Linked DNA regions of Homo sapiens: regions 2 and 3 are each linked to region 1. The links come from fine-mapping of genetic effects on gene expression. Tissue or cell type: whole blood. Region 1 holds a variant in brackets; each other region holds the start of a gene. All regions are shown on one strand. Distances are between the middles of the regions.

Region 1 (8,102 bases):
TACTTGTATTCAAATGTTTAAGTTTTTCATCCTTCCAAATATCTAAGCCATACTAAATTAATGGAAGAAAGTGGTAATTGTTTACTAGGGGAACAAAACAGAATGTCACATTAAGAAATCATTGGAAACCCTGTTATCCATGACCACCATCCTACGCTAAAAATTAAAGAAAGAAGAGCACTGGAGTTAAAGTTACATTCCCACTCAAACCAAAGACATTTTTGCCTCTTCATATAAACTGTAAACTCCTCTCTCTCTCTAACAGGGTTTGTGTCATATCTCTGGATTCTATCCCAATGCCCTACAAATTGAAGGTACCAAATACCTATTTTCTTTTTTTTATTATTATACTTTAAGTTCTGGGATATATGTGCAGACTGTGCAGGCTTGCTACATGGGTATACATGTGCCATGGTGGTTTGCTGCACCCATCAACCCATCATCTAGGTTTTAAGCCCTGCATGCATTAGGTATTTGTCCTAATGCTCTCCCTCCCCTTGCCCCCACGCCCAAACAGGCCCCGGTGTGTGATGTTCCCCTACTTGTGTCCATGTGTTCTCAGTGTTCAAATCACACTTATGAGTGAGAACATACAGTGTTTAGTTTTCCATTCTTGTGTTAGTTTGCTGAGAATGATGGTTTCCAGTTTCATTCATGTCCCTGCAAAGGACATGGGCTCATTCTTTTTTATGGCTGCATAGTATTCCATCATGTATATGTGCCACATTTTCTTTATCCAGTCTATAATTGATGGGCATTCGGGTTGGTTCCAAGTCTTTGCTATTGTGAATAGTGCCACAATAAACATACATGTGCATGTGTCTTTATGGTAGAATGATTTATAATCCTTTGGGTATATACCCAGTAATGGAATTGCTGGGAAAAATGGTATTTCTGTTTCTAGATCCTTGAGGAATCGCCACCCAAATACATATTTTCTAAGAATGATGATAATAATGAACTAACTCCTCTAATTCCTACCAGAAAATATACTCCATACATAATTAGACCCATGTTTTTCAAAACATGTTTCACAAAAGGTGTATGCCTTGCCACATGGATGGTAGTTCTACTAAAAATGGGAGGAAAAGAAAAATTATTTAGCTAAATAAGATTGAGAAACCTAAGCATAAAGTTAAATAAGTTGCATTACCACATAATTTCTTAAGAAATTTTAAAACATTTTTGTGCATTGTGAAACTCTAAGAGACAGTTAAAATTTGCAACATTTCCCATAATTGTTTGATAAGGAAAACTTATGAAACCTTGAATGGTACCAGTGTCTTACAGACCAAAGTTTAAGAAATGCTACATTAGATGAATGTTGAGTGCCCACTATACACAAGGATAGTGTTCATTGAAATATATCCTTTCTTTCAGCCTTGGGGATTTTTTCATCTGTAAACAGATGATAATAACACCTACCTCACAGGGTTGTCATGAAACTGGAATGAAATCAAATATATGCAATGCCAAGGCTAGCACAAAGAGGGCCAAAATGAACTCTCCTTCTCTGTCCATAAAGGCATTACTGTGGGGAAAATGAAATAGTCCTGAATTTTACTGCACTTATACACACCTCTGTATAGGTTTGTATGCCTGGGGACAGAAATGTATCATATGACACTTCATTGTCTGGTTCAGGAGTTAAGTCAGTCCAGCCATGGCCATCTCCCACCCAACTAGATTTAGTTCCTTAACTTCACAAGCCTCCATCCACCACTGCCTTCCTTAATTAGACCTATGGTCCCTCACACACAGTCAACACACTTGTAAAGACCCAGGCATTCAAGCATAAACCAGAAACATAGTACATCCAGTTGCCAAAATGGTTAAGTACTTTTTTAGCGAAGGATCTTAAGCAAATATATATATATATATATGTTATTTAGGGTCATGCAAGTGCTGAACAGTACACTAGAACTGCTTTTAGTTTCTAATCTTTTAACAACACTGCATGGCAAAGTTGATTAAAATAAATATTTAAATAAAATCTAAGTTGAACAAAGCATTACAAAAATGTTTAAGCCTCAAGTGCACGCAGCCACAGAATATGCTCTTGGACATTGCTCCCTGAAAGGGCTGCTATCCCCCGCCTCCTTGAAGGCACCCATGTCAGGGGTTGCCCCATCCAGGGAGCTGGTCCCTAGTTAAGAATATGAGCATGTGTGCGCAGAAAGGCAGGGAACAGCACGAACAGCCACGCTTCTAGAAGGTTCTAGGGAGAGGGCAGGAGCAGCGCAGAGGGAATAGGAATGAGCAGGCAGAGGACCTGGGGTCACGAGACCGTTGGGTGAAGAGGAGCCAGTGGCCAGGAAGGTTCTAGTGTGTTCTGTCTCCCGGCAGCCGCCTGCTTCTACGAGGTCATGCCAAGCCAGCACCTGGGCCTGGAACCAGCCACAGCCCCTTAGCTTTGCCCACCGCCTCCCGAAGTGAACACGCTTCGGGCCTTTGTGAAAATGTGTAAGCAGGATCTCAGCGTTCTGCACACCAAGGAAATGTGCTTCCTGAGGGAGTGGGTGGAGAGCATGGGGAGTAAAGTGCCACCTGCTAGTCAGAAAGCTAAATCAGAAGAAAATACCAAGGAAGAAAAATCTGGTAGTAAGAATGTGGAGGAAGACTTAAAGGCAGATGAACCATCCAGTAAGGAAAGTTATCTAGAAATTAATAATGAAGGTGTGATTGAACCAGACACTGATGCCCCTCAAGAAATGGGAGATGAAAATGCAGAGATAACAGAGGAGATGATGGATCAGGCAAATGATAAGAAAGTGGCTGCTGTTGAAGCCCTAAATGATGGTGAACTGCAGAAAGCCATTGACTTATCACAGATTCCATCAAGCTGAATCCTCACTTGGCTATTTTGTATGCCAAGAGGGCCAGTGTCTTCATCAAATTACAGAAGCCAAATTCTGCCATCCGAGACTGTGACAGAGTCATTGAAAAAAATCCTGATTCCACCTAGGACACAGGAAATTACAGAACATCGGAGAAAGTATGAGCGAAAACGTGAAGAGCGAGAGACCAAAGAAAGAATAGAAAGAGTTAAGAAGACTCGGAAGAGCATGAGAGAGCCCAGAGGGAGGAAGAAGCCAGACAATAGTCAGGAGCTCAGTCTGGCTTTTTTCCAGGTGGCTTTCCTGGGGAAATGCCTGGTAATTTTCCCAGAAGAATACCTGGAATGGAGGGGGCATACCTAGGATGGCCAGAAGGCCTGGACCCAATGAAATTCTTAGTGATCCAGAGGTTCCTGCAGCCTTGCAGGATCCAGAAGTCATGGTGGCCTTCCAGGATGTGGCTCAGAACCCAGCAAATATGTCAAAATACCAGAGCAATCCAAAGGTTATGAATCTTATCAGTAAATTGTCAGCCAAATTTGGAGGTCAAGCCTAATGCCCTTCCGATAAATAAAGGCATTGCTGAAGGAAAAGCAACCTAGATCACCTTATGGATGATGCAGTAATACAAACCGGTGTACCTCTGACCTTCTCATCAAGAGAGCTGGAGTGCTTTGAAGATAATCCCTACCCCTCTCCCCCGAATGCAGCTGAAGCATTTTACGGTGGTTTGCCATTAGAGTATTCATTCAGATAATGTTTTCCTACTAGGAATTACAAACTTTAAACCCTTTTTAAACCTTAAAAATATGTAAAACAAATTTAAAGGGTCTGTTAATTCTTATATTTTTCTTTATTAATCATTTTGGATTTTTTTATTTGAATTATTGGGCAGGGAAAATACTTATGTATGGAAGATTATTGCTCTAATTTGAGTGAAATAAAAGTTTATTAGTGCGAGGCAAAAAAAAAAAAATGTTTAAGCCTCTTGTGATGCACAATTCATCAGTGATACATTAGTGCCCTCTGCTGCTGGCTGAGTTTTCCAACAGCTCAGAATTTCGGTATGGCTTTTCTTTTTCTCCTTTTTTTTTCCTCTCTCTCTCCTCTTCTTTTAAGAACATTGCAGTGTATTGTTTTGGTTCAACATTTTACACATAAATTAATAAAATTAGTAGAATGGTAATCAGGATGCATGGGATTATTTTAAATTATTATTGCTTGTGTTTCGACATCAACGCAAAGAAATTTCTTGATCAAAATTACTTAGAGATTTCATATTGAGCTGCAATCACGGAACACAGCATACATTATTGCTCCTTAATTGTAAAATATTCTATAAAAGGTAACTTATGTAGCTGGCCTGATAGCATATCATATAGGTTCCAATTTTTAATGATTATAAATATAATAATTTACCCCTCATTTTGCCTGGCTTATTTCTTAGGGTTGCCAGATTTAGCAAATAAAACTATGTCCCAGGTACTTTCATGGAACCTATTTCTACTAAATACTTATACTAAAAAATGCTAAATTCTTAGGTAAAAAAAAAATATTTACAGTTGATCTGAAATTCAAATTTAACTGGATTTCCTGTATCTTACCTAGTGACCTTATCTATTCTCATGTGTGCTCTGAATTTCATAATTGAAATTCTTTTCTGTTATGATAATCAGAGTTTATCCTACCGTAATAATGACTAAAACCAAACACATTTCTTTATTTTCTATTTCTTTCCTCACATTTTGTGAAACGCTGAGTAGGTTTTCACATAACAATGCTTAATGCACAAATTGACATAACAAGGTTTGTTAGTCATGAGATTAAAAGCATTTGTTCTTAAAAGAA[G/A]AGTTATTTAATTAATGGATGGATTAAGTAAGAACAATCCTGAATTCCTCAACTTCCTTTATGGAGCAACAAACATACTATATAAAAAGCATATAAAAATTCCGTTTTACGAATGGTAAGTTTGAAAGTGAGGCCACCCAGATGCAACATTATGCTAAAGCAGTGATTCTCAAGCTTGCACAGCTGAACTTGTGGAAGTTTTTTGGGATTTTGTGTGTTTGTTTTTGAGACAGATTCTCACTCTGTCACCCAGGCTGGAGTACAGTGGCACAATCACAGTTCACTGCAGCCCCGAACTCTTGGCCTCAAGCGATCCTCCCACATCAACTTCCCAAGTAGTTGGGACTAGGTGCACCACCATGCCTGGCTAATTTTATTTATTTATTTATTTATTTATTTATTTTAGAAACACGGTCTCACTATGTTGTCCAGGCTGGTCTCAAACTCCTGGCCTCAAGAGATCCTTCTGCCTCAGGCTCCAGAGTCGCTAGTATTACAGGTGTGAGCTACTGCGCCTGGCCAGAGAGTGCTTCTTGATTTTAATATACACATGAATGAAACAGATTGATCTAGCAGAATCTGGGCATTTCTAATTAGCAACTAGTTGATGCCATTGCTGCTAAGCCAAGGACCATACTTTGAGAAGAAAGATTTTAGAAGAGACCAAAAAAGAAAAAGCAATTTGTTTCAAAATGGAACTGTATAATGTCTGTGAGAATTGAAAATGCAGATTACTTACCACCACATTACTGCCAGAATGTAATGATAACTGCCACAGAAACGAAGGATGGGAGCGGAGATGAAAGAAAACGATTAATCGTCCTGTGGTGGTGTTCAGTGTGCCATCTTCAGTTCCTTTATCGTTTTCTGTCACAGTATCTCTCACTGGCAAAATGGAATTAATATTTGCTCCCTCACTACTTTTTCAGAATTTGAGAATTTGCATTAGATCATTTTATATGCAGCATCCCAAATATGCAGTAATTTAAAGCATACAAGTTTAGACCACATTAGAATTGAGTTCATAGTTTATTTCCATCAGACCTCTTTTAACCATTTTGGTCTGTTGGAGTTTAAGTAGCAAGATGCAGATTGTGCAACCATGTGGAGCTGATCAAATCAACCCCTGAAAGTGTAATTGGTAAATCTCTTCAAGTGCTTTTGAAAAATTAATCAAGACAGGTTTGGTGAACCTTTGCTGAGAGTGTCATTAGGACAAATGACTTGGTTCCCAATATATTATCATAAAGGAAAACTCCAGCTGCAAATCCCAAGGTGACCCATTTATCTCACTTGAATGGAAAATAATGACTTTTTAAGCACTGCAAATAATTCCGCTGGTTTAAAATCAATTTGGTTAATACAATTAAATAGAACTATTTGATCTTTCAGGTTCAAAAACCACCAACTTGACTCAGACATTAACATTTTAATATGGAAACAGCCACCATAATCTTCCAATGCCCTCAAAAATGGTTTATAGGGACACGTTGTAGAAAACAGTGCATATAACATTGTCTTTAAAATCTTTCCAGAATTAATAATATAAACTGGTATTGAGGTATTCTGCCTTAAGCATTCATATTTCACCTCAAAGCCAATGCCTTTTTTTTTTTCACACAGTCTCACTTTGTCACCCAGTCTGAAGTGCAGTGATGTGATCTCTGCTCACTGCAACCTCCATCTCCTGGGTTCAAGCGATTCTCCTGCCTCAGCCTCCTGAGTAGCTGGGACTACAGGCATGTGCCACCACACCCAGCTAATTTTTGTGGATTTTTTTTTTTAATACTTTAAGGACTGAGATACATGTGCAGAACATGCAGGTTTGTTACATAGGTATACACGTGCCATGGTGGTTTGCTGCACCCATCAACCCGTCATATACATTAGGTATTTCTCCTAATGCTATCCCTCCCCTAGCCCCCTACTCCCCAACAGGCCCTGGTGTGTGATGTTCCTCTACCTGTTGTGTTCTCATTGTTCAACTCCCACCTATGAGTGAGAACATTTGGTGTTTGGTTTTCTGTTCCAGTGTTAGTCTGCTGAGAATGATGGTTTCCAGCTTCATCCACGTCCCTGCAAAGGACATGAATTCATCCTTTTTTATGGATGCATAGTATTCCATGGTGCATATGTGCCACATTTTCTTTATCTAGTCTATCATTGATGTGCATTTGGGTTGGTTCCAAGTCTTTGCTATTCTGAATAATACTGCAATAAACATACATGTGCATGTGTCTTTATAGTAGAATGACTTATAATCCATTGGGTGTATACCCAGTAATGGGATTGCTAGGTCAAATGGTATTTCTGGTTCTAGATCCTTGAGGAATAGCCACACTGTCTTCGACAATGGTTGAACTAGTTTACACTCCAACCAACAGCGTAAAAACGTTCCTATTTCTCCACATCCTCTCCAGCATCTGTTGTTTCCTGACTTTTTAATGATCACCATTCTAACTGGCATGAGATAGTATCTGATTGTGGTTTTGATTTGCATTTCTCTAATGACCAGGGATGATGAGCTTTTTTTCATATGTTTATTGGCCACATAAATGTCTTCTTTTGAGAAGTGTCTGTTCATGTCTTTCTCCCACTTTTTGATGGGGTTGATTTTTTCTTGTAAATTTGTTTAAGTTCCTTGTAGATTCTGGATATTAGCCCTTTGTCAGATGGATAGATTGCAAAAATTTTTCTCCCATTCTGTAGGTTGCCTGTTCACTCTGATGATAGTTTCTTTTGCTGTGCAGAAGCTCTTTAGTTTAATTAGATCCCATTTGTCAATTTTGGCTTTTGTTGTAATTGCTTTTGGTGTTTTAGTCATGAAGTCTTTGCCCATGCCTATGTCCTGAATGGTATTGCCTAGGTTTTCTTCTAGGGTTTTTATGGTTTTAGGTCTTTCAATTAAGTCTTTAATCCATCTTGAGTTAATTTTTGTATAAGGTGTAAGGAAGGGGTCCAGTTTAAGTTTTCTGCCTATGGCTAGCCAGTTTTCCCAACACCATTTATTAAACAGGGAATCTTTCCCCATTGCTTGTTTTTGCCAGGTTTGTCAAAGATCAGATGGTTGTAGATGTGTGGTGTTATTTCTGAGGCCTCTCTTCTGTTCCATTGGTCTATATATCTGTTTTGGTACAAGTACCATGCTGTGTTGGTTACTGTAACCTTGTAGGAGCCTCGTAGTATAGTTTGAAGTCAGGTAGCACAATGGCTCCAGCTTTGTTCTTTTTGCTTAGGATTGTCTTGGCTATACAGGCCCTTTTTTGATTCCATAGGAAATTTAAAGTAGTTTTCTCCAATTCTGTGAAGAAAGTCAATGGTAGCTTGATGGAGATGGCATTGAATCTATAAATTACTTTGGACAGTATGGCCATTTTCATGATGTTGATTCTTCCTGTCCATGAGCATGGAATGTTT
Region 2 (8,102 bases), 140 kb after region 1:
ATCTGTTATACATAAATTTTTCTTTGACCTCAGAGCAAGAAATGCTTGAGGACCATCTCCTCTGCATCTTTCAGGGACAGCCAGAGCCCTGAGACACACATGAAGGCATCTACTGCATCCAGGAGTGAAAGTAGCATTGTTTTAACACTGGGTCACAATCCGGTGGTGGTTTGTGAATTCAATTTAAAAGGTCATGGCTGGCACCTTAAAACCATCAAATAGAACACAATACGTGCAATAGAAAATATGAGTGTGCACACATAGCCAGGGTAAGTATTGTCCATGAAACTTTTGTATCATTTATCTCACAACATAAAATGTGTTTCTTGCTGTAGGTCACTGAACAAATCCCTGGACAAAAGAACACTGGTTCAGACATAAAGTCAAGGCCAGGCATGGTGGCTCACACTGGTAATCCTAGCACTTTGGGAGGCCAAGAGGCAGGTGGATCACCTGAGGTCAGGAGTTTGAGACCAGCCTGGCCAACATGGTGAAACCCCATCTCTACTAAAAATAGAAAAATTAGCTGGGCATGGTGGCAGGTGCCTGTAATCCCAGCTACTCAAGAGGCTGAGGCAGGAGAATTGCTTGAACCGGGGAGGCGGAGGTTGCAGTGAGCCAAGATCACGCCACTTCACTCCAGCTGGGGCAACAGAGTGAGACTTCATCTCAACATGTACAAGTCACCTGTTCTGTGTTAGGCACTCTGCTAGGCACAAGAAATCCAGTAAAGAATAAGACATCCCCTAGTCTCAATCCACCTTCTGGTTGGGAAGCCAATAAGCACACAGTTGCAAGATAGGGTGCCAAGTGGTCTGAGAGAGTATGTATGAGGCTATAAAACCCTGACATGAGGGCGGGCATCTGGGAGGGCTTCCAGGAGAGGTGATGCAATTGGAGTTCACAGCAGGAAAAGAGAGCGATAGGTTCTAGTGTCTCCTCCATCCTATAGATAAGAAGGGAACTATGTTAAAGTGTCAAGGGTTCTAGTCTTAAAGTCCAAAGACATCCTGTCTCCTCTTCTTAACAAGCTGTGAGGTCTCAGGTGAGTCAATTAACCTTCCCAGACCAATTCCTCATTTACAAAACAGGCATCTATAAAAATGGGCATAATATCTGCTCTATCAACCTCAAAGAAGTGAGAGATCAAATGAAATAGATAATATATGTGAAAGTACTTTGTAAATTACAAAAGGGGAGGTATTGTCTCTATGGATGAGGAAATGGAAGCATAACGAAGTGAAGTGTCCTGCCCTACAGTGCTATGGGTAGCAGGCCCCTCTAAATCCTCAGTCCTCAGCTCCTGCCTGCATTCCTCCCACTGCAACTAATCTACCTTAGAAGAGGGCAGGGGAAGGGTCTAAAAAGGCCCCCATAGCAACCTGACTATTGAAGATTTACCTTAAAGATCCTATTGTTTTAATGATGGGAGGTGGGTATGTCAGAACTCCTCCGTTTCCCTTTCTGTTAATGAATTAAGATCTACCCAAATTCAGTGTTTAAAGTTACATAAGCATCATTCAGATCTGTAACAGCCACTTTCATTTTGGAAAAACAGCATTTCCATTAAAATGATGTTATATAAAAAGGTTTTGTATACGTGCGTAGGAACAGCAGAAACAGGCACACATGATCACTGTATGGCACACAGGCATATGCAGATCATGACCTCACCTGTCCTCATGAGGAAGGGACCATAGGAAGCAGGTGTCTGATAGTACCTGGCAAGCTTAGCTGTGACCTAGTTGTCCTCTAATCATCAGTAAGACCTGATGCATGTTGGGCAATGGGAACTGCAGCAGGAAGGAAGCCCCTTCCTTGGCAGGGTGAGTGCCACTGAATCACAGAATATTGGGGTTGGATTTAGCTCAGAAGTCACCCAGTGCAATCTCACTCTACACCACTCTTGCCGGCCTTGACTTGAACAGCTACCATTGTCCCAAGGCAGCCCATGTCACCTGTGGACAGATGTAGATCACTGGAAAAGACCTGATATTGAGCTGAAACCAGCCTTTCTGGAGCTACCACCGCTGGGGAACAAAAGCACCCACAACCTTGAGCAGAGACTCCAGGAGCTGTAGCCAGCGGAGCGTGCCCCGAGGCCTAAAGAGCAAGTGGGGAAGGCAGCCTGAGTCCACAAAGCTGAAGCTCCTCCGAGAGACCTCCATCCATCTAAAGGAAGCTGGGACTGTGGGGGCAAAAAGAGAGGGGTAGGATGAGGGAGGTAGGGAGGAGGGGCGGAGTCGGGGCCGCCTAAATGGGAGTAAGTCGGTGGGTGTGAGGAAAGCCCAGCACCTCAGGTCTCATTTTCAGTGTTTTGGGGGACACAGTCCCGAGGTCAGTTCCAGCTCTTATACTCTGGAGTCCTAGGTCCGCCCACACGCACACACCCCTTTCGGGATTCGAAGGTTGTACTTTTTTTTTTTTTTTTTTGAGACAGAGTCTCGCTCTGTCGCCCAGGCTGGAGTGCAGTGGCGCGATCTCGGCTACCTGCAATCTCCGCCTCCCGGGTTCAAGCAAGTCTTTGCCTCAGCCTCCCGAGTAGCTGGGATTACAGGCGCCCGCCACCACGCCCGGCTAATTTTTTTGTATTTTTAGTAGAGACGGGGTTTCACCATCTTGGCCAGGCTGGTCTTGAACTCCTGACCTCGTGATCCACCCACCTCGGCCTTCCAAAGTGCTGGGATTACAGGCGTGAGCCACCGCGCCTGGCCTCGACGGTTGTACTTTTATGTGACTTGGTACGTCCTTGATTCTAGGGCTAAGCAGGGGGGTAAGGTAACTTCCGATCCGCCCCATCCCCTGCTGGAGTCAGGTTAGGCTTAGCGGCTTGTCTTGGTCACCCCTGAAGGGGGAAACCTTTCCACCTTCCCCGAGTGCGCCCTCCGAGAAAAGAACACCCCAGCACAGAGCACCAGAACGTGAGCTTCGGAGCGGCCTTTTAAATAGTTGGGAAGGGGGTGTGGCCGAGGAGACTGGGAGGCCGCAGTCTGGCGCGGGGGGAGTGGCCCGGGGGCGTGGCCGTGGCGCCTGGAATGTTGTTAGGTCCTCTCACCGCATAGTAAGGAGGGGCCACGCCCCTTTTCTCCAAGAGAGCCAATCGGAGCACCGGAACGGTTTCAAGTCTCCCCCGCCAGCCTGCCCGCCCGCCACCCCACCCCCCTTGAGGATTCGCTTTTTCCGTAACAAAATAGCAAAGCTCCCGACTGTCCGCAGCCCCGGCCGCTCACAGATGGAGGGTCCCAGGGCCTAGGACGCAGCCCCCAGCGGGAAGCTCCAGCTGGCCGTGAAGAGGCCGAGTCGAGAGCCGGGAGGCGCGCGGGGGTGGGCGCTGCAGCCGCGGGTTGTTTATCTGGAGTACGGAGGGGAGGGGGGAGCCTGGAAACCGCCCCGTGTCCCATTTCCTCCTCTTGTTTTCGCTCCGGATTCTCCATGTTGGACCCAAACTGAGGAGCCCGGAGCTGCCGCTGGGGGATCGGGGCCGGGGGCACCCGGGGGAGCCGCTGCCCGGGCCGCCCGCCCTTTGTACAGGCCGCCTCCCTTCCCGGTCCGGGGAGGAAACGAGAGGGGGGATGTGAACAGCTGTGGAAGTCGGAGTCTCGGGAGCCGGAGCGGGCCCCCGCCCAGGCCCCCCAGCCCAGCCCAGCCCGCGCGCCCGCCCGTCCTCCCGCCCAGCCAGCCCGGGCCCGCGGGATTGTTAGATGGAACACGGCTCCATCATCACCCAGGCGCGGAGGGAAGACGCCCTGGTGCTCACCAAGCAAGGTAGGGGCAGCAACTTCCCAAAACTTTGCGTCGCCCCCGGGCGCGGAGGGGGCTAGCACAGCCCCGAACCCAGGTCTCGGCCCTTGACCTCCAGGGCTTAGAGCCAGCGATCCCGACTGGACCCCTCCGGTCCATCCGCCCCCGCATCCCGGCTGGCACTCAGACCTCCGTGGGGGTTGCACGGGGATCCCGGCGCCCGAGCGGAAAGGGCGTCTTCGGCGCAGCTGTCACCCTGTCCCGCAACCCCTCCCCCTCGGGGCTGAGAGACGGAGGGGTAGCTCTCGAAGCACTGGGCCACTCCGCGTCCACCGCCTCCGGAGTTGGGGGTGGGGTCGTCACTTTCCTTCACCGCCGCGCGCGGCTGCCCCGGGATCGCGGGGAGGGGTTAGGAAGGTGACAGAGGGAGCCCCAGGTGGAACGGAACCGAGACTGGAGTCCAGCACTTGCAGGCCCCCCCAAGCCCGAGGTCGTTCGGGCAGCTAGCTGGCGGTGACGGCGTCCGGCGGGACTTGGGACCAAGTTCACCTCTTGGAGGCGGGGGCGGTCGCGGTGGGGGAGGGGCCCGGGCCCTGGCGCACCAGACGTGGCGGGTTCCCGGCTCAGCGCAGGCCCCGGGACCTTGGCGGCGTCGGGCTCCCTCCCGGCTGCCTCTGACCAGTTTCGCTGAGCAAACAAGCCCGACCCTGAGGCCCGGCCAGAGCCCCTCCCTGCCCGGTGCGCTCCCCCGGGGCCGGCGCTGCACACACAGAGCCGCGTTTGTTTAGCCCGGGAGCGGTGTCCCTGGTTACATAATTCGCCGGATGGCATCAGACCCGGCGTGGTTCTGAATCGCGCAGCGAAAAAGTGCGAGTTCTCTGTGGGCAGCGGCTGGCGGCCCCCGCCTTCCAGAGCGTCAGGTGGAGGCGCGAGGGGGCCCGCAGGCCCTCGCGGGGGTGAGGCGGAGGCCGAGGCCTCTCCCGGGGCGGGAGAAAGCTGGGGCCCGAGGGTGGAACCTCTTAGTTTGGTCACAGTGGGAGACTCGAAACTCTTTCCCCCTCCGCCACGTTCTTCTTTTGGCCTTGAGGAATGTGTCCAAAATAGCGGCAGATTTTCCGCGGGGTGTAAGGACGAGTGTGGCGTTTCTCTAGAGAGCCCCCCGACCGGGGCCACCTGGCCCCGGAGGCTGGGGCGGGAGCTGGCTCCTGGGGCCGAAGCCGGAGCGCTCCCTCCCCTTCTCCACCGAGCGCGAAGGGCCGGTGCTGCAGTTGAACACACTGAGGCCTAGAGCCTGGTGGGCGGCCAGCTTCGGGGCCTCGTGCGCCCCACGTCTCCCCGTTTGGCAACATTAGTCAGCAGGTCACTAATTCCTGGGGTTCACGTTCCAAGGAGCTCCCCCAACTTCCCTAGGGGCAAATCCGCTGAGTTGGTGGTGTCAGCCTCTCCCAAATTCCCTCAGTGGAACGAGAGGAGCTGGGAGGGGGGAAGGGTGGGGGGAGGGAGGCAGTGTGTTCCTCTTGCATCACTGGCCGGACTTTAAATAAGCCTGCCCTGAGAAGGGATGGCCTTGCCTACTCAGATCCCAACCCCCGAGAAGGCTCCGGCCTCCCTGACCTCGGTGTTGCCATGATTTCTGCTCTCCTGGCTGCATCACTAACCAGGCTGTGACCCAGGCAGCAACTTCACCGCCTCTGCTGGCTGCTCAACTGTGCTGATGGCTGAAAAAGGAAGGGAGCCTGCGTGTGTTTATAGCTCACTCCTGACTCTTCCCACTCCCTTTTTATCCCAGGAAAAGACCCTAAGAGCTAGCCAGAGGGGAAGAAACCTAGATGTGGGGGGATTCAAGAGGGGGCAGTGGTGATGAGTAGGGGGAGGAGCCCTGTGCTTCCCCACTAGGTCTTCCTCTCTTGCAGGGACTCTCTTGCAGGGAGTGTGCCTTGGGCATCGTGGGGCCACGCGAGGAGTAAGGGAAAGCTGGACTGCGCCGGGGCATCTTAGAAATCAGAGCTGGAAGTTTCATCCACCAGGGTGAATGGCAGGCTACAGAATAGATAACAGCAGAAAGCAAAGCAACTGGCTTGACAGTGTTAAGTTGCTGGTGTTGGATTTTCTTGGAGTTAATGTTTCTCCTTTTTTGTGTGTGTGGTTTAAGCCAGCAGCCACTGGGTCTCTCCCTCCCCATGTAATTTTTTATTTTAATTGAGATGGAGTCTTACTCTGTTGCCCAGGCTAGAGTGCAGTGGCGCAATCTCAGCTCACTGCAACCTCCGCCTCCTAAATTCAAGCAATTCTCCTGCCTCAGCCTCCCAAGTAGCTGGGATTACAGGCGCGCGCCATCACGCTTGGCTAATTTTTTTGTATTTTTTAGTAGAGACAGGGGTTTCGCCAGTTGCCCAGGCTGGTCTCGACTCCTGAGGTGATCAGCCCCCTTCGGCCTCCCAAAGTGCTGGGATTACAGGCGTGAGCCACCGCGCCCGGCCCCTCCCCATGTAATTTGATTGCATTCCAGAGAAGACAGACTTTCTTCCTGGGCTGCTTAGGCACCCAGCAACCACTAAACCAACTTTCTGAGTCCCACATCATTTACAAACAAAACCTACGTCTTCAAAACAAAACAAAAAACAAAAGCTGGGGGACTGGGGAAGCAGATGTTTTAATTGGCTCCTTTTGGAGTTCCTTCTTCTCCCCACTCCGTCCTCTCCACAACATCCCATCTCCATGCCTTGCCTGCCTTTGGAAAAAGGGGAAGAAGGAGTGTGAGGTACTTATTATTAATAAGTAAATTTCTGGAAAGAAACAAATTGCTCCTAGCTTGGGTGGCTATTTAGTGAAGTTACTTGCCATTGCGGGTTTTTTTTTTCTTTTTTTAGCATTCTGTTCTCTGAGGTTTAAGGCTGTCTGGGTGCGTTGATGATTCAAAAGTAATTACAGTAGGGGAAGTAGAACAAAGTTGCTGAAAGCATTGATGATAAAAGCACCAAAATTGGATCATCTTCCCAGACAGATGGGTGAAATGGCTTTCTGGTACAGCAAGGACAGGATTGTGTGTAACATCAAAAAGAAAAAAGAAATGTTAATATCAGCTTGGCAAGAATGGCTGTTGATTGCAGCTCTATATGAGATTGTCACCCCATTGCTAAGAGGTTGTGACCTTGGCTTTGGGATTAGATGGGGGAAAGCCAAGGAAACAAGACCCACGCTGTAACCTCCCAACGTGAAATGAGACCTGGTGGAGGCAGCCTCTTCCGGAGCTCAGTGACCCACACGCCTTTTGGAGGAATCAGAGATTTTTTTGTTGTCCATGAATCCTGATGCCCCTTCCTCTCGATGATGCCCTGGATTACCTTCTCACATGCCGAACTGGACAGGTTCTGATAGCTAATTGCAAGGATTCTTCTGAGAGACTGACCATCTCTGAAAATTACGATGTGGCAAGTTTTCAGGATGGCTAGCTCTTTTGTTATCCGCATAAGGGAGAAATTCTGCCTTATTCCCTCAAAAAGTTGTTCAGACACCGTTCACTGTAGATGTAGGCAAGCCTTTAACTTGAAAAGCTTAGACATGAATCTTGCTGGAGCTTCCTTCCATAGCTTGCTATGCAGGGGGCGGGAAGCCTGCATGTTTATAGCTGGCTCCTCCTCCTGCCCTGCTGGTGCCTCTCACCTTCCTTTGCCTACCCTGGGTCTTGGCCTCTTTGTGCTCTCACAGTGACTGCTGAGGCTCCCTCCTGCATCTCCTTTGGAGTTTTTCCCCCATCTTTGGGTAAGGGTTGCAGCCTGCGTGGTGACTTAAGCTTGTGTTTGCTCCTGTCCCCAAAATTGCAGAGGAGCGCTGATAAATCAGCAACAAAGTTTGTAAATGCCTAACATCTGGGGCTGGGGGTTTGCAGTTGACTTGCAGAGCTTTCCACTGAGCAGCACTGGAATTGCTGTGAAAAATCCCTCGGAGGATGGCAGAGGTGGGGGTGTTCCTTTGTCCTCTCTTCTCAACCGTAGAGGTCTTAAAGAAACTGGGTAGCAGAGAGGTGTCATTTCATCCTTTCCATGGGACCTTCCAAATCCCTTATCATGGATTTTGTTAAAATGGTAAATACTAAAGAAGTCACATTTCTAGCCAACGTGAATTGATGCTCCCAACCTGTGAAGAATTAAAGTGTTTGTAAATAAGCATGGAAAAGAAAGACAATATGTAAATATATATGGGATTGTGTGTATGTGTGTACATATCAATACATAGCTTCCCTTCCAATTCCTCCTACAATTTTTTTTTTCTGCTAGCTTTTGGGTAATTTGGGGTATTGTCTTTTATTCCCATCATGGTAAGTTTGGTTCTTAGATTGGACAGAGTGGGGACCAGGGTCA
Region 3 (8,102 bases), 170 kb after region 1:
CGTTGTGGTGCCACCTTCCCTTCTTGTCCCAAGGTTATAAGGCCTTGTCTTTCTCTTTGGAATCATAAAGTGGAACAGAGTCCCCAGAACTCATGTGGCCATTTCCGCCAGCATCACTCCCCGGTGCCTATGGGGTCCCGGTGTACCTAAAGGGAGAAGGACCCCATGTGCTAGCCAGAAATATACTGTCTCTTGAAGGAAAGCAGGAGCTCAGACTCTTAGAGCCAGCTGTGGCTTCGGACCCAAGGCCTGACCTAGGCTGCTATCCTAATATTGCAGGAGGGGCCTCTCTTCCAAGCCCCACCCTAAGGGTTAGCCCTTGGCCAAATCTTTTGCCGTCTAGGCCCAGCCAGGCTTTTCTGACTAAATAAGCAATAAGAGGCTCTAAGCTGACTGAGTTGCAAGGACCCTTTCCGCCCTCCCTTGGATCTCCATGTTTTTCCAGATGGCGGAAGAGCATGTGCCACCCCCTTTCCTAACAGACTTGTCCAAGTGCTTGGCGTGGGACCCATGACCAAAGCCCAGGATGGCTTGGTGGGAGTGTCCCTGCTGCATCTGCATGAAGCCCCTGCTTTTTAGGCCTCACTCCCATCAGAACCCTGCCTGCCCACCTGCAACTCCCCCCCAACAATGCCATTCCCACTTGCCCCAGAGAAGCTACTCGGCCAAACCTAGCCAGGGTCTGTTCTTGTGGACCAGAGCCAGCCTAGTCATTATTTGCTGTCGGGTTTCCAGTTTCACCGTGTGTTAGGGTGAGGGATGATTGTAAAATTTGCTCCTCAAAGGAATCAGGCCAGACTCAATTTTGGAGGGCAAGACAGGGAGGAGGCCGCTTCATCCCAGACTCTCTTCTAGGGCTTCCCACCATCAGCCCCTCCCACTTGAGACTGGTCTTTGGGAGGCAATAGGCCACCATGCCTGGTCAGCACCAATTCAAGCCATGCCAGGAATCTGCCTACCTGCCAGGTTCAGTTCTTTTAAGGTGCCTCTTCAGGGACACAGTGTGTCTCTCTGATTGGGCTTCTAAATCAAAAGCCTGATGTTCGTGTCCCTCTCATAGGGGGAGCTTTGGACACAGGACCAGTTTGGAAAAGGGTCAGGTAAGGGTTTCCACTCTGCACATTGTAGAGGGAACACTCTGTAGGCCCATGGGTCCCTTACTAGAGAGGTTGAGTGAATTTGCCTTCAGTTAACATGGGACCTTCTGTTTAGCTTCCTCTTGCTTCCCAAAGATTTTAAGCATTTTGTAAATGTATAAACTCACCTCTGGTAACAGTGGCCCAGACGCTGCTTTGTGCTAAAAGCATGGGAAATGTAAAGGCAGTCTTTCTCTGGGAAATGGATGCTATTCTATTCTGCTGCCCCTACCTGTTCCTGAGGCCTCATTTAGAAAGAAAATCCCCTCAGAAGGCTGTCTGGCACCCAGTGTCCTAGCCAGGCCAAGTATATGAGAAAGGTAAGTCCATTTTCCCCTTCAGGTCCTCAGTGGATTACTTAACCACTGCTGTCCCTCGGTCCCTTTTTCCTAAACGGGTTTAGTTCTGTCTTTTTTCTCCTTTTTTCTAAATGCTGGTAAATATTTACATTCAGCCAGGGAAGAGGAGGCCAGAGGTCGGGCCAGCTGCCCCATTCTTTTAACGTTGTAGGGCCTGCCCATGGAGCGGACCCTCCTCTTTGGGCCTCGTGAGCTTTTTTGCTTATCATGTTCCATTTCGTGCCGCTTTCCCCCTTCAAGATGCCATTTGGAGGGTAGGGGATCTGCTTCCCACTGTGACTGGGCTATGGGATTCTGACTACCTTGCTTACAGATTCATGGTTTGATAAATTTGTTGTATTCAAAAACTTGAAATGCAGGACGCCATTAAGTGTCTGTTTATATTTTTGGAATATTTGTATTACTTACAATTAATTAATAAAAGTGGGTTTAAAAAACCTTTCCAGGAATGTGAGCTGCCACCAACCTTCATTGGCCCTTAAGTGTTCACTGGGCCCATGGCAAGCACCGCCTTTCTTCTCGCAACCCCTTCCATCATGAAGCAGCTGCACCCCCGGGCTGAGTGGGGTGTTGCACCCACCGGGAGGCCAGCTGCAGATGCCACACAGGGCTTCCGCTCAAGGTTACACAAGTTCTGCTGTGATCAACCCCATTGCAGTCAGGTGCTTAGCACGTGTATATGCTTGATGTCCTATTGACTTCTGGGCATGAACCAGAAGCCCTAAGGGAATGGATTATTATTTTTTTTTTTTTTTTTGAAATGGAGTCTTGCTCTGTTGCCCAGGCTAGAGGCAGTGGCATGATCTCAGCTCACTGCAACCTCCACCTCCCAGGTTCAAGCGATTCTCCTGCCTCAGTCTCCTGAGTAGCTGGGATTACAGGCGCCTGCCAGCACGCCCGGCTCATTTTTGTATTTTTAGTAGAGATGGGGTTTCACCATCTTGGCCAGGCTGTTTTCAAACTCCTCACATTGTGATCCACCCACCTCAGCCTCCCAAAGTGCTGGGATTACAGGCGTGAGCCACCACCACACCCAGCCCTGGGAATGGAGTCTTGATTCTTCTCTGCCCCTCACTGATTCTTCCAAACTGGAAACCCTGAAGCTGAGAGCCCAGCATGGTTCCTGGCAAACAGCAGGCACTCAAATATTGATTGGTTTACTGTATGACTAGTAGAGACCCCAACGAGCAAAACTGTGGCCTAATAAAATTCTGGCTCCTCTCCCAGACTTCCCCTCCCTTTGAGAAATGCCAGAAGCTTCTTAGGGAGGCTCTTGCCAACCTAGACATCACAGGCACTCATGGGGCAGCTCCAGCCTCTTCCTCCTGTCATCACCATAATGCATCCATATCTACAATATGGCAAATTTCATATCCTTCCAACCTCTTTCCTGCATTATTGATGGGCTGTGTGCACTTTTTAAAAAATCAATTAGATCAGGGCGTGGAGCTGGAGTTCAAAGAAGCCTTTAAAAGTCTGCTCTTCTGTTTTGCTGTTTTGAATAGGCACAGATAAAGCTTTCCCTCTGGTTTGAATAAGCCAAGCTCAGTGCTAGGTTGGCTCTGATTGGCCAGGACTAGGAAAATGCGGTTAAGATGCAAACACAAGCAAATATAACCCAGTATCTCTGCGGCCATTACTAAGCTAAGGCAGCAGGACCTGGAGCCTCCTGCTTTGGAGTGGTTCTTCAATACTGCTGCTGCTTACGCGCCGGGAAACTGGGAAGGCTGGTGAGCGAGAAGGCAAGGTAAGGTCTCTGATTTACGGGGGCATGCCAGTTAATCCTCCTGAATGAGGAAGAAATGAAAGGAAGAGGAGCTTGAGAGTCCCTTGGCTTTGTCTTCTGAGATGAGGCTTTTAAAATGAACCAGGAGTCTGGCTGGCCAGTTTTGCAAACTTCTTGTTCAGAAGAACCCCTTAGAGGCAGCTGAACATATAGGGCACATTTTCAAAAGCTGGGAAAGACAGACCCCTTTCACCTATCCCTAGAGAAAGATGGTATGGAGCAAGGCAGGAGGAGTTAAAACCAGCTTCCTGGCCCAGAGAGGTGGCTTACACCTGTAATCCCAACACTTTGGGAAGCCAGGGCATGAGGATTGTTTGAGCCCAGGAGTTTGTAACTTGTGACCATCCTGGGCAACATAGTGAGACCCTGTCTCTACAAAAAAAAAAAAAAAAAAAAAAAAAAAAAAAGCCAAGCATGGTGGTGCACACCTGTGGTCTCAGCTTCTCAGGAGGCTGAGGCAGAAGGATCACTTGAGCCCAGGAGGTGGCGGTTGCAGTGAGCCGTGATTGTACCACTGCACTCCAGCCTGGGTGACAGAGCAAGACCCTGTCTCAAAAACAACAACAACAAAAAACAGCTTCCTCTGCTCAGGGTCCGTCCAAAAGGGCATCTCTGAGAATTACAGGCCACTGGCTTTTAACCTGACATTTCAAAACTGTGCCCCACACCCAAGGGGTTTCTGCAGTCCTCTCAAAGGATACTGAATTAGGATTTAGGGAGAAGGAGAGACCCAGCTTTGGGAGATTTGATGTCAGAACTGTGTTTTCTGTGTGTTCCAGTGTGACAGGAAGTCCCTTCCTGGAGCTTATCCTCTCGCATTCGGGGTGCCTGGCCCAGGGAGCTCCTTGATTCCTAAATTCCTGCTGGGAAACGGGACAGGTTTCAGCCTCTGAGGCTCACAGTCCTAATTGCTGCCGGCTGGTTTGGCTTTTACCAGGGTGACAGTTCTCTGTCTCCAAGGAATGAATTCAGTGGCCCTTGTCCCCTTCCCCTAGTTGGCTCATGGCTTTTGCCTTTAATGACTGCTACGTAGGGTCTGAAGAAAACCCAAACACCATATTTCCTGGCAATTCTGAGCAGCACAGGGTGGGGCAGCACAAGTTATCAAATTAAATTCTCAAACACTGGCTGCTCCGCACCATTGCCTTGCTTTAGTCCTGCTACAGCAGTAGACAAAGCGAGTCTGCTTTGAGCTTTATGGTTTTTTGCCAAAGTCCATACTAGATGGCGCATGCTCTCCAAACTTGGCTTTGTCCATCAAGGTTCAAGAAAACAATGGTCAGACATGTTCCTCTTAACAAACAGTATGTCCCCAAACAGCAAAAATGCATACAGTCCTTTCTGGGTGAATTTTTAAATCTTACATAAATCCATCAACCCCATCCTTTTTCCTTTGCCTCTTGGGAGAAATTAATCTAGCTTTACATTAATTATGCATGTTATCAGATTTCAAGCTCCTTGAGAGCAGGTATTTTAATTCTATAAAGCCTCTACGTGGCCTTGGACATGGGTAGGTGCTTAATTACCCAAGATGCTCCTTGAATACAGATGGTACACGACCTACACAGACTTAGATCTTTACCACTTCCCCCCTCTCCCCACCCTGACTTGCTCAATCCTGAAGGAACTGGAGACGTCTAAGTGTCTGAGGTTCACGCTTCCACACAGAAGCTTGGGTCTGTGTGGGAGGGAAAAAGGAAGCCATCTGTCCGCAGGCCAGACCAGGCCACACCCTGCTAGCACCCAGAACCCTTTGTCCCAGGCCCAGCCCTGCCATTTTACTTTCCTTGCATCTGGAAAGCACAGGGAATATAGTAGTGACAAAAGAAGGAAGGGTTGTTTGAGTTTAAGAATAGTTTACTCTAAAAAAAAAAAAAAAAAAAAAAAAAGGACAAAAGCCAAAGAGAAGGTCAAAGTTGACTGTGGAGAAGGCCTTGCAAGCAGGGAACTTGGGAAGAATTGGAATGAGAGTGAGAGAAGGCAACTGAGTTTGGAAATATTTTTTCTGACTAGCTTTTCTTTCCAAATGCCACTGAACTTAGATTGGTTTAGGAAGGGTTGTAGTACATCAAAGTGGCTAGAAGCACAGGTTTGGGGATCAGATAAGGATTTCATTCTAGAGTGTGATCTTGTACAAGTTATTCAGCCTTTGCAAACCTCAGATTCACACAATGTAAGATGAAGAAACTCACCTTCTGAAAATTAGAGATAACATATGCAAAGTGAATCAATACAGGGCTTAACATATTTATCACCCCTTTGGTAAATAACCATGACGATTACCAGAGCTCTTAAGGGCAATGGCAGGTGGGAAGCAGAACTCATGGGTGGTAATCCCCAGGCCAGCCAGGCTCACCATGTGCACTTGGACAAGTCCTTGCCCCCATCATTGTGAAATGGTGCAGGGATGCACCATGAGGGTGTGGCAGGATGGCTGACAACAGACTGGGAAGCAGCTCGGCAGAAAAACTGGATTGATGCCCACTATGGCAAGAGATATCATCTCCCCTCTTGTTCTGTGATGTTTCAGTCCTGGAAAGACAAGCATCATGCCTCTGACCAGTGCCTTCAGGGCTGTGGACAACGACCCTGGGATCATTGTCTGGAGAATAGAGGTGAGCTGGGCTGGAGGCACCTTACTTGTGACCACTGGCATCTGGAAGCAGTCTGGCTGCCTGGGGCTGCTAGGCAACAGCCCGCCAGCACCCCTTAGCCTATGGTTTGAGGAGAATGAGAGGCAGCATCAAAGTACCTATTTCCCATCCTTCACCTCTCCTGGGTGCTCAAAGCAGGTGGTTGGCAGGTGGAGGAAATGTTCAGCCCCGAAGAACAGGGCTCCAGACAAAAACAGGCTTGTCCTTTAGCCAGCCACCTGCTCAGTGAGTCTGCACTTGCAGGAAACACCCTGGAAAGACAGGTGGGACCTACTCAGCAGACTCCTGGCAGCTTCCATCAGAGAAATGGAACATGTCTTCCACGGGGCACCCTGGCTCCTACAAAATATGGGGAGAGGTGAGGGGGCACTGCAGAGATGAGGAGCTGTTCAGCCCGTCTCCTCTTGGGCTTGGGACCCTCTGTGCGGCTGTGAGCTCCAGCAATCCATAGCTGGGAACCACCCTGGCCTGGGTAGCTCCACCTGCCAGATACGAGGATTCCCCCCAACCCCTGCCCTGAGCCCAGTCAGTTGCTGCTGCCTAAAACCCAGCGATGATGCCTCACTTCACTATCCTCAACCAGGAGGGGGAGTCAGCTCTCCAGCAAGCCTCGCAGAGATTGTGAGTCCCAGGTCACTTCCACTGTTTGAAGGCTTCCAGTTTCCTTAAAAACTAACAGGTACTGGCGGGGTGCGGTGGCTCACGCCTGTAATCCCAGCACTCTGGGAGGCTGAGGCGGGTGGATCACGAAGTCAGGAGATTGAGACCATCCTGGCTAACACAGTGAAACCCCACCTCTACTAAAAATACAAAAAATTAGCTGGGCATGGTGGCAGGCGCCTATAGTCCCAGCTACTCAGGAGGCTGAGGCAGGAGAATGGCGTGAACCCGGGAGGCGGAGCTTGCAGTGAGCCGAGATCGCGCCACTGCACTCCAGCCTGGGAGACACAGGGAGACTCCCTCTCAAAAAAAACAAAAACAAAAACAAAAAACAAGTACTAAAACACGGTTACCAGATTTGCAGTATATTTAACATTTATCACATTTTACATAGAACACACACAAGTATGGCCGCAAGTTTCCCTCACTTGGGGAGTGTGATGAAAATCTACATCAAGGCTGTGTGAACAGTCCTCCAGGGCCAAGCCATACATGCAGTGATAAATCAGGGCCCTGACCCAGACTCCAAATATAAGACACTTGGCACAGAGCCCTGCTGACCGCTGGCACTCTCCAAATGTTATCCTCCACCTCCCACGGCCCCACAGAATCCAAGTGTTCTTTCTTACATGGGCCTGGGCCAGCACCCAGTGGTCAGCGTTGGGAAGAGCGTTGGAGGTGCTGGCACAACGGCTCAGAGAAGGGTTTGTACTTGGTCGTTTATATCCAGCAAAGGGCTGGAGGTGGTTCACAGGTTTCCCACAATAGTGCGAGATGAGATCGGGTGGGAAGTAGAGTGGAGAATAGGGCAAGGGAAAGCAGGATAGGGACCAAGGTTCAGATCCGGGGTGATGCAAGCAGAGCTCACAGAAGCCAGAGGGATGGCCACGTTAACCCTGTGGCTGGCAGCCTCACATCCTGTAAGGTCATTGAGAACATCTCCCCTCCTTCTCCCCACCACCTGCACCGAATGACAGAGAGGAGAGGGAGGCTCATGGGGAAGGGAGGTGGGAGGGGATGTAGCCTATACCCACCCCTTGTCCTTCCAGAAAATGGAGCTGGCGCTGGTGCCTGTGAGCGCCCACGGCAACTTCTATGAGGGGGACTGCTACGTCATCCTCTCGGTGAGCACCCTCCTCCCCACTCCTGTGAGCCTCTCCCCTGGGGCCAGTTCTTGGGCTGTACTGGGAGATGTGCTGGTGAGGGAAGGTAGTCAGTCCCTGGTATCGGTCTCAATGGTTCCTCAGTGCTATGCAGAGCAGACCTCCAGTCTGACTATCAAAGGCCATCATTAAGCCTGGGTTTTTAATGCTGCATAAGAGGATGGGGGTAGGACCCTCAGTCTGAACCTCAGTGAGCCACCCACAAGCAGCACTTCTCCCGGGCCTAGGCCCCACATTAAAGTGGTGTGGAAGAAGGCCTGATAAATGCAAGGCCTGTCTCTAGCCTCAAAGTGCTATTCTCATGGAGGAGACTCACATGAACGGTGCTGACAGGGTCGTGCAGG

Evidence for each region. PIP is the estimated chance that this variant, and not a neighbour inherited with it, causes the effect.
Region 2: CTDSP2 starts here. The variant in region 1 is fine-mapped to the expression of CTDSP2 in whole blood (TOPMed, PIP above 0.99).
Region 3: AVIL starts here. The variant in region 1 is fine-mapped to the expression of AVIL in whole blood (TOPMed, PIP above 0.99).

The regions. Positions count from the first base shown.
Region 1 is chr12:57,979,083-57,987,184 of GRCh38, reverse strand. It overlaps the pseudogene ST13P8. Among named protein-coding and RNA genes, the nearest start is that of ATP23, 42 kb to the right of the region's middle. The variant G/A (reference allele first, on the strand shown) is at 4,686.
Region 2 is chr12:57,842,035-57,850,136 of GRCh38, reverse strand. It overlaps CTDSP2 (CTD small phosphatase 2), which reads left to right and starts at 3,408. Exons shown (of 8, transcript NM_005730.4): 1 at 3,408-3,765. The coding sequence starts at 3,702. It overlaps CTDSP2-AS1 (CTDSP2 antisense RNA 1), which reads right to left. Exons shown (of 2, transcript NR_188077.1): 2 at 6,376-7,878. RefSeq lists silencers at 2,927-3,106, 3,177-3,256, 3,267-3,696, 4,287-4,586, 4,917-4,966.
Region 3 is chr12:57,813,769-57,821,870 of GRCh38, reverse strand. It overlaps AVIL (advillin), which reads left to right and starts at 3,137. Exons shown (of 20, transcript NM_006576.4): 1 at 3,137-3,242; 2 at 5,812-5,896; 3 at 7,645-7,719. The coding sequence starts at 5,831. CTDSP2 (CTD small phosphatase 2) reads left to right here. Exons shown (of 8, transcript NM_005730.4): 8 at 1-1,944.